4 linked regions of the Homo sapiens genome follow. The gene in region 1 interacts genetically with each later gene. Each region holds a gene or a part of one and is shown on either strand. Other genes may lie near its edges.

Region 1 (3,500 bases):
GAAATAGTTGCTGGTTCTTTGATGTACAATCAGCCAACCAGTATTTACAAGTCTTAATTCTCCTGTTCTTAAGCATAATTAAGGGAGGTGAAATGGGCAGAGCAAATGAAAGCACCATGAATAAATATAAGCCAAGAAATAGGTGGCTAATTCTGCTATCCTGTTGCTTACCTTACATTCTGATTGTATCGTTGGCAGACTCTGCGTGTGTCTCACCTACTTCCCTTTTTTTTCTGCCCAGCTTTCCCAGCCAGCTGTAAGCATTGAAGGACAGGTATCAAATCCTCCATCTACTAGTAGCACAGAAGTGAATTCTCAGGCCATTGCTGAGAAGCAGCCTTCCCAGGAAGTGAAGATGGAGGCCAAAATGGAAGTGGATCAACCAGAACCAGCAGATACTCAGCCGGAGGATATTTCAGAGGTGAGAGTAGGGCAATTACTGTTTGATTTGGTTAGGACCTCAGTATAGGAACCCAAGTTTTAAAAAATATTGCAGAAAAATATTTTGATAATTAGATCTCATGGCATAGATTTTGCATGAGAAAGGGTGTTCAGATTACTGATTCCCAACTAGATATCTTTGGAATACTAAAAATTCTTACGTTTTCTTTTAGTCTAAAGTGGAAGACTGTAAAATGGAATCTACCGAAACAGAAGAGAGAAGCACTGAGTTAAAAACTGAAATAAAAGAGGAGGAAGACCAGCCAAGTACTTCAGCTACCCAGTCATCTCCGGCTCCAGGACAGTCAAAGAAAAAGAGTGAGTCTCTGAAGCCATTCGTTCTGGAGGTAGCTGAAGAAACCAAAGACCCAGGGCAGAATTGCGGTCATGCCTCTTGGGCCTCAGAAGTTGCCATTATTGTGATTTCATTAACCTGGAAGCCCTGGGCCTGGTCTCTTCATTGTTACTAATAATTTTTCTTTCTTTTTTTTTTTTTTAATATTCACTTGCAGCAACCAATGAGTTAAGTCATTCCCCTCATTTCTTCAGGGTTCCCTGTGTTAGTACACCCTAAAAATTGTCTCATTTTTCAGGAGAGAGAAATGTTTGTAAATAGCCTTGACTAAAATGCAGGAAAGAATAGCAATAGTAATAGCATTTGTCATTCACCTGCTGTGTGCTAAGTATCCACATTGTCTCATTTAATAATTTCTTTCTTTCTTTTTCTTTTCTTTTTTGTTTGGAATCGGATTCTCACTTTTGTTGTTCAGGCTGGAGTGCAGTGGCGGGATCTGAGCTCACTGCAACCTCCACCTCCCAGGTTCAAGCGATTCTCCTGCCTCAGCCTCCCGAGTATCTGGGACTGCATGCGCATGCCACCATGCCCGTCTAATTTTTGTATTTTTAGTAGAGACAGGATTTCACCGTGTTGGCCAGGATGGTCTCGATCTCTTGACCTGGTGATCCACCCGCTTCGAGCTCCCAAAGTGCTGGGATTACAGGCATGAGCTACCACACCCGGCCTCATTTAATAATTTCACAACAGCTCTGAGGTTATTGGCCTGAAGCTTAGCAAAGTTAAGTAACTTTCCACAGGTTACTCAGCTGACCCTACTGCCTGGGCCAGGAAGCAGACCCAGGCAGTCTGAGGCAGAGTGCTCAAATCCAGCCATTCCAACAAGTGTTAATTGACTATTTTAGGACTAGAACTTTTGTGGCTCTAGTGATCTGCAAAAGGCACCAGGTAGGACATACCTGAGGAGTGAGTCTGCTGGCTCTTACAGATGATATATATTGAAAAGTGTTCCATTAATACAATGTGTTGTAAAATGTTGGGATTAAAAAATTATTTTCATTTTAAAAATAAGACTTGTATATATTGAGGTGTTTTAATATGGGCTGTAACAAACCCAGTCTTACTATTGGCAATCTCTCTTTAAAATGTGTGTTCCCTCATGCCTGTAATCCCACCGCTTTGGGAGGCCGAGCGGGCAGATCACTTGAGGTCAGGAGTTCAAGACCAGCCTGGCCAATATGGTGAAACTCTGTCTCTACTAAAAGTACAAAAGTTAGCCGGGTGTGGTGGCTCTCACCCGTAGTCCCATCTACTTGGGAGGCTGAGGCAGAAGAATCACTTGAACCCGGGAGATGGAAGGAGGTTGCAGTGAGCCAAGATGGCGCCACTGCACTCCAGCCTGAGTGACAGAGAGTAATTGTCTCAAACAAATAAATAAAATAAAATGTCTAATTTCACAAGTTTATTCAAATAGTCCTTATTTTTAGCACAGCTAAATATGAGTGACAAGCATCTTCGTAGTCTGGTTTCCCCCCACTCCATGGCAACCCCCCAGAGGTGAAAATTATCTGAAGTAACAAATATACTCTACCGATGATGAAATTTTTTTTGCCAATTAAGAAAAAATAAGGCCCTTGCTGAAATTGAAAGCTTTTTAAATCACTGGCTTCTCAAAGAACTGTTTGATTCCATTTGGGACACACCAACAAATTTTTCCGGACTTTTTGGGAAATATCATTGAGAACACATTTGAACTTAATTTGATCAACTAAGTCTATTATTTTAGCAATACCATTTTTGTTCTCTCTTCTTTTAAACTTAAACCTAACATTTGTCATTAAAATAGTACATGTCTCTTTTTCTTTGGCTCTAAAATACCAAGCATTTGAACGAAGGAGTCTTCTCTTCTGTGCCCCTGACTCCTTGTAGTATAAGACAATACCTGATCTAGTCTAGTTTCTGACTTGTTAAATACTGATGTCATGAAGAAAGACTTTTCTGTTCTTGCTTGACTGCATCTCCCTCTTAACACGAGTATCTTGTGCACTCTTTTTTTTTTTTTTTTTTTTTTTGAGATGGGGCCTCATTCTGTTGCCTAGGCTGGAGTGCAGTGGCGCCATCTCGGCTCACTGCAACATCTGCCTCCCGAGTTCAAGCAGTTCTCTTGCCTCAAGCCTCCTGAGTAGCTGAGACTAGCATGCCACCATGTCCGACTAATTTTTTATATTTTTAGTAGAGACGAGGTTTCACCATGTTGGCCAGGCTGAAACTTCTGACCTCAAAGTGATCTGCCCACCTCAGCCTCCACCGTGCCTGGTCCCATGGACTCTTATTTGGCAAAGTCTCTTCATAAATTTTTAGAAGCCTTTGGATTCTGCTTCTAATTGACCGAGTCTGTCTTCACTGACTTTGTGACTGAAAAGTTAAGCTGAGGGTGAAGAGTGTTTTAAGGTGATAAGACACAATGTTTTTTAGGAGCTGTCTGAAACAAAGCGGGGCTTAGAATCTAGAATCAGTGATTGAGCCTGTAGTGATATTTCCATGGGGACAGAGTGGTTAATTTTGTTATTGATTCTTGAGATGCTTTTAGAGCTTCAGGCTGAATGATTTTTTAAAGTTCTTCTGCTTAATTGGTAACTAATTTCAAATGCACTTTTTTTTTTTAAGTTTTCAAACCAGAAGAACTACGACAGGCACTGATGCCAACTTTGGAGGCACTTTACCGTCAGGATCCAGAATCCCTTCCCTTTCGTCAACCTGTGGA
Region 2 (3,500 bases), on another chromosome or scaffold:
AGGGGGCCAGGGCTCTGGGGTGCTGTAGAGGCAAATGGGGTGGGGTCAGGGCAGGTACTGGGTAAGGTCAGGGTTGTGCCTTCCCTCCACCCACTGGGGCCTCACCGGCTCTGTGGGCTCTGGGGACTGTGATGGGGGTGGTGGAGGCAGTGGCTGGGCTCCGGGGCGCCGCCTGGCAGCCATCTTGGAGTCACAGCCTCCCTTGCGGCGGGCATGTTTACCCTGGGAAAGATCAGAAAGGGTGGTTTCAGCTTGGTGGCACCAGGCAGACACAGAAACTCCCCACACCCTAAGTGCAGAAAGCATGCATGGGACAGGCAGACAGAGGGTGGCGTGAGGCACTCACAGTTGGGGGAGCCACAGCCAGGGGAGTGCGTCGCTGACATCTCTGATGACGGCGACGCAGGCGGTGAGCAAGGTGCTGGCAGACAGAGGCAGGTAGGCGGGGCCAGAAAGGCGAGCATAGGGTTAGGCAGAAAAGAAAGACATGAGGTAGGCAAGGCCAGGTTGAAAGGAAGCAGAGGCAGCGACGATTTTAACAGCAGAATGAGCTCTGCTCCCTCCAGCCCAACTCACCCGTAGGCAACGTCGCTGGACACATTTCCACTGGCGCCTGAGACCAGGGCGGGGAGGGCGAAGGCAGATGGGGCAATGGCCACAATCCTCTTGGGTCTGACAGCCCCGGCATACTCCACACCCTCGGCTCTGTTGGCGGGGGGCAGGTGGGAGCAGAGGCATGAAGCATGGGGCCAAGCCCATGGGGGCCAGGGGCCGAGGTGAGCCTTGGGCTCTTTCCACTTGCCCAACTCACCCTTTCCACAATCCGGAGGCAGCGTCTCCGTTCACACTTGCAGAACAGCCCCGATGCCACATCATGGGGCAGCTGCAGGAGGCAGGTGGAGCAGGCCCCACAGTCTTCTGTTACCTGGCAGGCTGCACACTCCCCACAGCCCACACGCTGCCAGGAATGGTAGGGACGAGATCACGGGCCTGCTCCAGAAGCACTGGTCCTCCCATGTCTACTGACCCTACATCAGCTGGCATCACCATGAATTTTAGTCCCCCATTAGCCTCATCACCGTATCTGAGAAGGTCTGGTTAGTCACCATCACTGAGGCCATTAGTATGTCTACTGGTCCCCTGTTCACTTCATCACTGTGTCTACTGATGCACTAATGGTAATGGGGATTAATTACCCCATTAATTCCCATTATTGTGTCTGCTGACCTATGGAGAGCACCCTATAAAATGACTCTTCATCCTGTGGACCCATCATCATCCCTTCAGACTCTACCAGCTCCATCACATCCTGCTCCCACTGCAGAGTTGTGAAGAGGAAGCAGGTTGTGCTTACCTTAAACATTCTCTGTTCCCGGTTGAAGGCAATTCTCTGTGCTGTGGGGAGGAAGAGGGAAGAAGAAAAGTGGAAAGGAAGCAACAGACATCTGACTTCACTCACTGCCTGTGCCCTGACTTCCACTATTCAACCTCTACCTATGCCTGCTATCTCCAATATCCAACCTCCAACCATGCCAGTAGCCTCTGTCCTGACATCCACATTCAAACCCCAGCCTAGCATGACACTGGACCTGCTCCAGCTCCTATCTCCCGATGCCCCATCCTCTGGAGGCCACTCACCTCGACAGTCTTTGCACAACGTTTTGAGCCGCTGCCTTTGGGTGCCATCCCCTGAGAAGCTGATTCCACAGTTCTCACAGCACCTGGGATGGGAAAGGCAGGTGTGGGGCTCCAAGAGCACCCCCAATCACAACCCTCACCCATCTGGCTCACCTTAGACCAACACTCACCCAGGAGCAGGGAATGAAGCTGGGGCTGTGTCAGTGTCAGCCTTGGTCTCATCCCTCGGGGCCTCCTTCCTGACCTCACCACTCTGGGGTCCAACCTGACGTTTCCGAGTCTTGGCTGGCCTTGAAGGCTTCTTTCGCTTCTTGCTGGCAACCGCCACGGGATGGGCCTGGAAAGTAAGGGAAGGAGGAATATGGGTCAGTGGTTGGGTGTTGGGTGGCACATCCACCCCTACCTAGGTATCTCATGTTGTGAAGTACCTTGGGGGCTGGATAGCACAAGATGCCTTGTTTGAAGTCGAAGAGGGTGAGATCACACGCAGGGCCCAGGTATCGAGTCAGCTCAACTTTGCTTCGGATCCTGTCTCCTGTGGGGCTAGGGATGGGCCATGATGGGTTAGCACCCAGGTGGAGCCAATGCCATTTCACTCATACAACCTTTTGACAGGGCTGGCAGGATATAGGAGGCAGCCTGGAATTGGCTTGTGAGCCCTGCCCAGCCCCCACCTCAACTAACCTTGAAAACATAAAAAAATTAATATAAATACCAACACATATAGAAACATTAGAAACAATATAAATGTAAACAGATGAACATATTTACAACATATAATACTAGTAATACTGGAACTATTTCATGTAAGTAAAAATAAACACAAATAGGAACACAAATATATTATATTTGTGTTATATATATATAACACAAATATAACATATAAATGTTAGCATTATGTACCAAGTATATATCAAGTAAAGAAAACACAAATATGTTTTAAAAACATATAAACAAATGCAACTACATACAAATTAAAGTATAAGTAATTGATTTTGGGACCCCCATGGGTTTCTTGCATTTTTGTATGCCCTGCAAGAGAGACAACGATTGTCCTTTTTGATAAACTATCTTTCCAAGGATGTTTGTAAAGCAAACAACCTTGGAAGATAAGAGATAGGGTCTCCTTCCATAGGAGGAAGGGAAAGTATACTTTTTCCAAAGGGAAAGCATACTTACTGTCTTAATATTATTTAAAAAAAACCTGATTCTCTAAGCTCACGGTTCTTTTCCTATAATAATACAACCCTCTTCACGTCATGCTGTAGGAATTGGGATTCAGAAACTGGCACAAAAATAGTAATACAGTAATTCCCCCTCTCGTGCAGGGGATACATCCCAAGTTCCCCAGTGGATGCCTGAAACCGTGGATAGTACCAAACCCTAATGTAATATGTACTGTGTTTTTTCTATCTGATAACTGAGATGGTTACTGTGTGACTAACAGGCAGGTTGTGTCTAGAACATGGATATGGATACGGATATGGACAAAGAGATGATTCACCTCTTGAGCAGGACTGAGCGGGATGGTGTGAGATTTCATCACGCTACTCAAAACGGCACACAATTCAAAACTAATGAATTGTTTATTTCTAAAATTTTCCATTTAATATTTTTGGATGGTGGTTGACTGTAGGTAACTAAAGCTGTGGAAAATGAAATTGCAGATAAGGGGGAGACTACTGTATTCTGGATCCTGCAACTGTTGTAATAAACTGTCTTTGATCTGTAACCCAGGAGTCTTACCCCTCCTACCAGCATCTACAAAATTCTGACAAATTCACTATTATCTTGTCCTAAGAATGAAATCTCAGGTTCTTTATAGTTCTTGACAACTGCACTTTTAAGTTTTGAAAGTTTTA
Region 3 (3,623 bases), on another chromosome or scaffold:
CAACCCAAAGAGTCAGCTAGGCTCCCATGGCAGCAGGCCAGGCATCCGGCCTGAGGCTACCACTTGGATATCAGGTGGGGGGCAGGCACTTTGCTGAAAGCTGCTCATTTTGTTTTTAATACCCTCATCCTATAATCGAGTGCTGTTCCTTACTATTTATCCTCCAAGTACAAAGTTGGGTGATGTCTGGGCCCCTGTGGCTCCTGGGTGAGTGTAGGTGACAAGAGAAAAGTAACTCCTGACATGCAGAGGGAAGACCTGCTGGAATAGGCGAGTTTAAGACACCGAAGGCGGGAGGGGGTTTGGAGGAAAGGGGTTCCACTGTCACCTGCTGCCCTCCAGGGGCCAGCTCTCTCTCGGGCCAGGGGAGCTGGATCCCCTGGCTGGCTCACCCTGAAGAGGGCCACAGAGGCTGCAAGCAGGGCTCCAAGAGACGGTGTGCAACGGATTTCTCCGGGCATGGGGCAGGCAAGGTTTCAGGAACGCCAAAGAAAAGGAAATTCTCATATTAATAATTATATTCTCATATTATTATTTATATAAATTCTCATATTATTAATTCTTATTAAGAATCTTGAGGTGACTTGTGGGCAGAGGTGCGGAGGAGGGTGGAGAAGGGAAGGGAAAGAAGGGAAGGGTGAGACCAAGACTCAAGGCAACCTGGGAAATCACCCGATCCTCTTTTCCACTCTCCTCTTCGCACTCCCCAGATGAAGGTCAGATTCTTTCCCGTTTCTTCATCAGCCTGAACGGAGCAGCGACACTTATCCTTGCCCTGCGCCCTGTGCCTCTGGCATGGCCACTCTCCAGTCTATTTGAAAATGATTTTCACCCTGTTCAGCGGATGCTGCACATTTAGTGTTCCACAAACATTATATCTGATCATCCTCCACAGGGTAAACTTTTGTCTCATCTTACAGGTGGGGAAAGCAATGCTCAGGGAAGTTAAATTACTCGTCCAAAGTCACGCGACCACTAAGCAGCTGGAGAGGGGATGCGAACCCAAACTCCAAGTACCCTCCAGGTTTCCGCAACTCACTGGGCGGCTCACACTTTCGCGCTCGCGCCCCGCCTCCCCGTCCCACCCCAGCGAGGGGCGCCCAGCCCGCCCCAAGAGGAGCGTGCCTCGGCCGCTAATCGCCCGCCGACCCCGCCTCTGTTTCACTGCCTGGAGACGCCCTGGCCAGCTTAGCCCGAGCCGACTCCCGGGGCCGCGCGACGCCGCCGATTGGCCGGCGGTAATTACGGGCACACTCCGGGTTGGGGGAGGGGCGATGGCGGCCTCCCGCGAGCATAAATTATGCAAATACCCGGGCGCTGCACGGGGATGACCTGCCGCCTCGCTCCATTCACCCGGGCTGCCGCGGGGGCGGAGGTGGCAAGGGAGGGGGGCGCCCATTGTTGCGCCGGGTACTTAAGGGGTCCTGAGGCCAGTCGTGTGCCACACTCGGTGCTCACACGAGCTGATCTGATCGCCGGCGACATCACTCAGGAGACCGGCCGGGCGCGTGGCCCCTGCAGGCGAGGCGAGGAGGCCAGGCCAAGTTCTCCGTGCGCCCCTGCACCCTTCCAGGCTCTCGCACCCGCAACTGGCACAGAGTAACAACCCCAGGCTGTTGGGAACGTAAGTGCGCCCTGGCGGCTCTGCCCTCAGTCCGGGCTGCAGCGCTCTGAGCGCCTTTCTATCTGTCCGTCGGTCCTGCACAGCGCAACGATGCCAGCCCGCCTTGAGACCTGCATCTCCGACCTCGACTGCGCCAGCAGCAGCGGCAGTGACCTATCCGGCTTCCTCACCGACGAGGAAGACTGTGCCAGACTCCAACAGGCAGCCTCCGCTTCGGGGCCGCCCGCGCCGGCCCGCAGGGGCGCGCCCAATATCTCCCGGGCGTCTGAGGTTCCAGGGGCACAGGACGACGAGCAGGAGAGGCGGCGGCGCCGCGGCCGGACGCGGGTCCGCTCCGAGGCGCTGCTGCACTCGCTGCGCAGGAGCCGGCGCGTCAAGGCCAACGATCGCGAGCGCAACCGCATGCACAACTTGAACGCGGCCCTGGACGCACTGCGCAGCGTGCTGCCCTCGTTCCCCGACGACACCAAGCTCACCAAAATCGAGACGCTGCGCTTCGCCTACAACTACATCTGGGCTCTGGCCGAGACACTGCGCCTGGCGGATCAAGGGCTGCCCGGAGGCGGTGCCCGGGAGCGCCTCCTGCCGCCGCAGTGCGTCCCCTGCCTGCCCGGTCCCCCAAGCCCCGCCAGCGACGCGGAGTCCTGGGGCTCAGGTGCCGCCGCCGCCTCCCCGCTCTCTGACCCCAGTAGCCCAGCCGCCTCCGAAGACTTCACCTACCGCCCCGGCGACCCTGTTTTCTCCTTCCCAAGCCTGCCCAAAGACTTGCTCCACACAACGCCCTGTTTCATTCCTTACCACTAGGCCCTTTGTAGACACTGTTACTTTCCCCCTCCCCTAGTCAGCAGGCAATAGATGGGGCCCCAGCTGCCGCCTCGGGACCCCCTCTCCAGGCGGAGGGAGGAAGCGGGAGCTTTAAAGCAGTCGGGGATACCTGAGCCGCTTGTTAGGTCGCCGCACCCTCGCGGCGGATGTCTCTTGGTCTGTTTCTCCGGCCCTCAGCCCAGCGCCCCTCCTGCCCGCCCCTAGACGGCCTTTCCTTTTGCACTTTCTGAACTCCACAAAACCTCCTTTGTGACTGGCTCAGAACTGACCCCAGCCACCACTTCAGTGTGATTTAGAAAAGGGACAGATCAGCCCCTGAAGACGAGGTGAAAAGTCAATTTTACAATTTGTAGAACTCTAATGAAGAAAAACGAGCATGAAAATTCGGTTTGAGCCGGCTGACAATACAATGAAAAGGCTTAAAAAGCAGAGACAAGGAGTGGGCTTCATGCATTATGGATCCCGACCCCCACCACTGCAGACTCGCTCTAGGAAGAACTGGAGACTCTTGCTTAGCTATTCAGGCACAGGGCTGGAGAGTACTTTAATTTATTCAAGATGCTTCATTCATATGAAAATGTATTTTTGTACATAAAGAGTTTATTCTATTATGAGCTATCAAAGTTTACATTTTTGTACTGCAGACGCTTCATGTAAATAAAAACTAAAAATAAGTCGCCAAGTTTCTTGCCTAATATTAGTGTCTCTGGGGCTTTTCTTGCTTTTCCCTGCTGGCTCAACCACTAAAGTGAAACACTATCCCACTCACCTCCAAAGCCTCTGTTCCTGTTTCAAAAACAATTAAAAAATAAAACGCACCTGATTTCCACCAAGAAATGGATAAAGACAGACTAGGGCATTTGGGATCTATCATTCCTTTCACCTTGTAAACACAAGGGAGATCTTTCAGGCTCCCCATAAGCCAATTAAGACTTTTTAGTAGGGAATTAGCCCCGGATCCGCAGCTACCTGTTGAGGTAGGGGCAGTGGGAGAGTCTTTCTTTTGAGGAACTCCACATCAGCTGGCTCTGTGTTTCAAAGAGAGGGGATTAAAAAGATCAATACAGTGTGACCACTGGTTAGGAAGTCCCAGTGACAGGTGGGCCTAGGCTAGGCAAGCAGAAGGGTCCACTCTTATAACAGCCTATTTAGAGGGGGAAATTAATTTGTAAAC
Region 4 (3,500 bases), on another chromosome or scaffold:
TTTGAGATAGAGTCTCTCTCTGTCGCCCAGGCTGGAGTGCAGTGGCACCCTCTTGGCTGCAACCTCCACCTTCCAGGTTCAAGCAGTTCTCTGCCTCAGCCTCCTGAGTAGCTAGGATTACAGGCATCCACCACCACACCAGCTAATTTTTTTGTCTTTTTAGTAGAGATGGGGGTTTCACCATCTTGGCCAGGCTGGTCTTGAACTCCTGACCTTGTGATCTGCCCGCCTCAGCCTCCCAAAGTGCTGGGATTATAGGCGTGAGCTACCGTGCCTGGCCTGTATTTTTTTTTTTTTTTTTTTTTGAGACAGAGTTTTACTCTTGTTGCCCAGGCTGTAGTGCAGTGGCACGATCTCGGCTCACCACAACCTCCATCTCCTGGGTTCAAGTGATTCTCCTGCCTCAGCCTCCCGAATAACTGGGATTACAGGCATGCACCACCATACCCTGCTAATTTTGTATCTTTAGTAGAGATGGGGTTTCTCCATGTTGGTCAGGCTGGTCTTGAACTCCCAACCTCAAGTGATCCACCCACCTCGGACTCCCAAAATGCTGAGATTACAGGCGTGAGCCACCACACCTGGCCACTGTTTGTATTTTTAGTAGAGATGGGGTTTTACCAGTGGCCAGGAAGGTCTTGAAGAACTGCTGACCTCAAATGATCCACCAGCCTTGGCCTCCCAAAATGCTGGGATTACAGGCTTCAGCCACCACGCCCGGCCCCTTCCCTGTTTTTTTATTTTATTTTACTTATTTTATTATTTATTTATTTATTTATTTTTTGAGACAGTCTCGCTCTGTTGCCCAGGCTGGAGTGCAGTGGCACAATCTCGGCTCACTGCAACCTCCGCCTCCCAGATTCAAGCAATTCTCCTGCCTCAGCCTCCAGAGTAGCTGTGATTACAGGCTCCCGCCACCATGCCCGGCATTTTTTGTATTTTTAGTAGAGACAGTGTTACACCATGTTGGCCAGGCTGGTCTCGAACTCCTGACCTCAAATGATTCACCCATCTCGGCTTCCCAAAGTGCTGACATTACAGGCATGAGCCACCACCTCTGGCCTTATTTTTAATATTTTTTGAGATGGAATTTTGCTCTTGTTACCCAGGCTGGAGTGCAATGGCACAATCTCAGCTTACTGTAACCTCCGCCTCCCAGGTTCAAGTGATTCTCCTGCCTCAGCCTCCCAAGTAGCTGGGATTACAGGCATGTGCCACCACACCCGGCTAATGTTTTGTATTTTTATTAGAGATGGGGTTTCACCATGTTGGCCAGGCTGGTCTCAAACTCCTGGCCTCAGGTGATCCACCCGCCTCAGCCTCCCAAATGCTGGGATTACAGGTGTGAGCCACCGTACCTGGCCTTATTTTTTTTCTTTTTTATTTTTGAGCTGGAGTTTGGCTCTTGTTACCCAGGCTGGAGTGCAATGGCACAATCTCAGCTCACTGCAACCTCTGCCTCCCAGGTTCAAGTGATTCTCGTGCCTCAGCCTCCTGAGTAGCTGGGATACAGGCACCCACCACCACACCTGGCTAATTTTTTGTATTTTTAGTAGAGATGGGATTTTGCCATGTTGGCCAGGCTGGTCTCGAACTCCTGACCTCAGGTGATCCACTTGCCTCGGCCTCTCAAAGTGCTAGGATTACAAACGTAAGCCACCACGCCCAGCTGTCTTCCCTGTTTTTAGATAAGGTACTGTGTTTCTGCCTTAAGCCATCTAGTGGGAACACATCTCCCAGGTTCACTGACTGTTCACTTCCTGTGGGTATCACCTTGTGCAGCCTTACCTGGTCACATTGTTCAGAGCTAAATGGAAGGGTTGTGGTCCACACCCCTCTAGATCCTGTGACCAGGACCGAATATTTCCTGTTGACTTGTAGTCTCCTTGAAATAATTTATTCGTCATATATGTTGAGAAAGCCTCTTGTTGGACTGATGATTCTTATGTATGAATGACCCTGGGACAGTGTAGTTTATGGGGGTGAAAAGTGTGATATTTGTGTGCCTGACTTTTGGTGCGTCTCATGTCTTCTGATATCCATCCTTTTCCTTTGCTTGAGTTTCCTCTGCTTCTTAGATGCTCTGTAATGTCATGGTAATAAGATAATACTAATCTGATGCTGTTCTAGGTTCAGTGTTTGGCTTTTAACCTTACCTTTTCTTTTTCTTTTTTTTTTTTTTTCTTTTTGGAGACAGAGTCTTACTCTGTCACCCAGGCTGGAGTGCAGTGGCACGATCTTGGCTCATTGTAACCTCTGTCTCCCGGGTTCAAGCAGTTCTCCTGTCTCAGCCTCCCGAATAGCTGGGATTACAGGCACATGCCACCACGCCCGGCTAATTTTTATATTTTTAGTAGAGACAGGGTTTCACCATGTTGGCCAGGCTGGTCTCGAACTCCTGACTTCGTGATCCACCTGCCTTGGCCTCCCAAAGTGCTGGGATTACAGGCGTGAGCCACCACGTCCAGCCTTACCTTACTTTCTCAAGAAGAGCAGCTAGTACTCTACCGATTCTCCAGAGGGGCTTTTTGGAAATAGTTAACAGTAGATCTTTGCTTAGGCTAGCCGATGATTTAGGGTATGCCAAACTCTATGCTTTCATAAAGAGATATGGAAAAAAGAAGGCATCAAGGAGGTACTGGTAAGATTTGGGAAATAATGAAGTATGATGATTTTAACTGTGGGGAAAAAATATTGTGATGAGATTAGGCCCCAGGTCTTTGGAAGAACCTTAATTCTAAGCTGAGACTTTGGCTGGACAGAGTCCACCTCTGCTTTGTCAAGTGCTCGAGTTTGGCATTCTCTCATGAGAAAGCTTTGTTAGAGGAAAACATATCTGATTCTGTCATGGTTGGTGAGCAAGTTTAGGCTAATCATGTTCCTGTAGGCAGGTTCTATAATGTCTAATCTCTACTGAGGGCAGAGCAAAAGAAAAGCATTCTTTGAACAGAGGTCATCCACATTTCAAAAGTGATGTGCCAAGTAACTAATTGCTTTCTCCCTGAACTTCATATGTGAAGAATGGCTAAGGGTAGTGTAAGTAGCTTTGGTGGTGGTTCTAAGGAATAGGAAGGATGGAGTACAGCTTTTGTGAGGACATAGGTGGCAATGCTGATGGGAGGACAGGCCAGCTGTCCTTACTGAACTGTTGGGCAGAAACAAGGTCTCCGATCTATAGGAACACGTTCCTGAATCGTGCTGTTTCATGTTTTCACACTTAGAAGTGGATGAAAGGATATAGTTAGTGTAAGCAGAATGAATGAAGAAGAAGGTGGCAGAATAATCTCCCCAAGAGATGCCTTTCTTTGCAGCCTAGTTCCGTATATTACTTGGTCATCTTCTGAGTCTCCTTTTTCATATATGCTCCAAGTTTCTGAGTTCTGGAGTAAGATCTTTTCCTTAAAAGGGTTGGCTTGTTGTCTAGGGTAAGAATATCAGGCAGTCTTGGATTGACTGAGAGTATGGTGATCAAAGGAAGGCCCTACATTCTTGTGCCTCTG

What was found.
Region 2: changes in EP300 (region 1) and MBD1 together harm fitness more than expected from each alone (negative genetic interaction), as found in Homo sapiens cells (one large-scale study listed by BioGRID).
Region 3: of EP300 (region 1) and NEUROG1, changing one enhances a phenotype caused by changing the other (phenotypic enhancement), as found in Homo sapiens cells (one study listed by BioGRID).
Region 4: changes in EP300 (region 1) and SEC24C together harm fitness less than expected from each alone (positive genetic interaction), as found in Homo sapiens cells (one large-scale study listed by BioGRID).

The regions. Positions count from the first base shown.
Region 1 is NC_000022.11:41,151,592-41,155,091, forward strand, and holds part of EP300 (histone acetyltransferase p300), read left to right. Parts: intron 1-241; coding exon 242-421; intron 422-614; coding exon 615-759; intron 760-3,403; coding exon 3,404-3,500. UniProt on the Homo sapiens protein: Functions as a histone acetyltransferase and regulates transcription via chromatin remodeling. Acetylates all four core histones in nucleosomes. Histone acetylation gives an epigenetic tag for transcriptional activation.
Region 2 is NC_000018.10:50,275,024-50,278,523, forward strand, and holds part of MBD1 (methyl-CpG-binding domain protein 1), read right to left. Parts: intron 2,182-3,500; coding exon 2,067-2,181; intron 1,976-2,066; coding exon 1,809-1,975; intron 1,722-1,808; coding exon 1,639-1,721; intron 1,396-1,638; coding exon 1,355-1,395; intron 959-1,354; coding exon 812-958; intron 706-811; coding exon 577-705; intron 422-576; coding exon of another isoform or gene 347-421; intron 223-346; coding exon 106-222; intron 23-105; coding exon 1-22. UniProt on the Homo sapiens protein: Transcriptional repressor that binds CpG islands in promoters where the DNA is methylated at position 5 of cytosine within CpG dinucleotides. Binding is abolished by the presence of 7-mG that is produced by DNA damage by methylmethanesulfonate (MMS).
Region 3 is NC_000005.10:135,533,782-135,537,404, reverse strand, and holds NEUROG1 (neurogenin-1), read left to right. Parts: upstream 1-1,440; 5' UTR 1,441-1,714; coding exon 1,715-2,428; 3' UTR 2,429-3,123; downstream 3,124-3,623. UniProt on the Homo sapiens protein: Acts as a transcriptional regulator. Involved in the initiation of neuronal differentiation. Activates transcription by binding to the E box (5'-CANNTG-3').
Region 4 is NC_000010.11:73,747,372-73,750,871, forward strand, and holds part of SEC24C (protein transport protein Sec24C), read left to right. Parts: intron 1-3,500. UniProt on the Homo sapiens protein: Component of the coat protein complex II (COPII) which promotes the formation of transport vesicles from the endoplasmic reticulum (ER).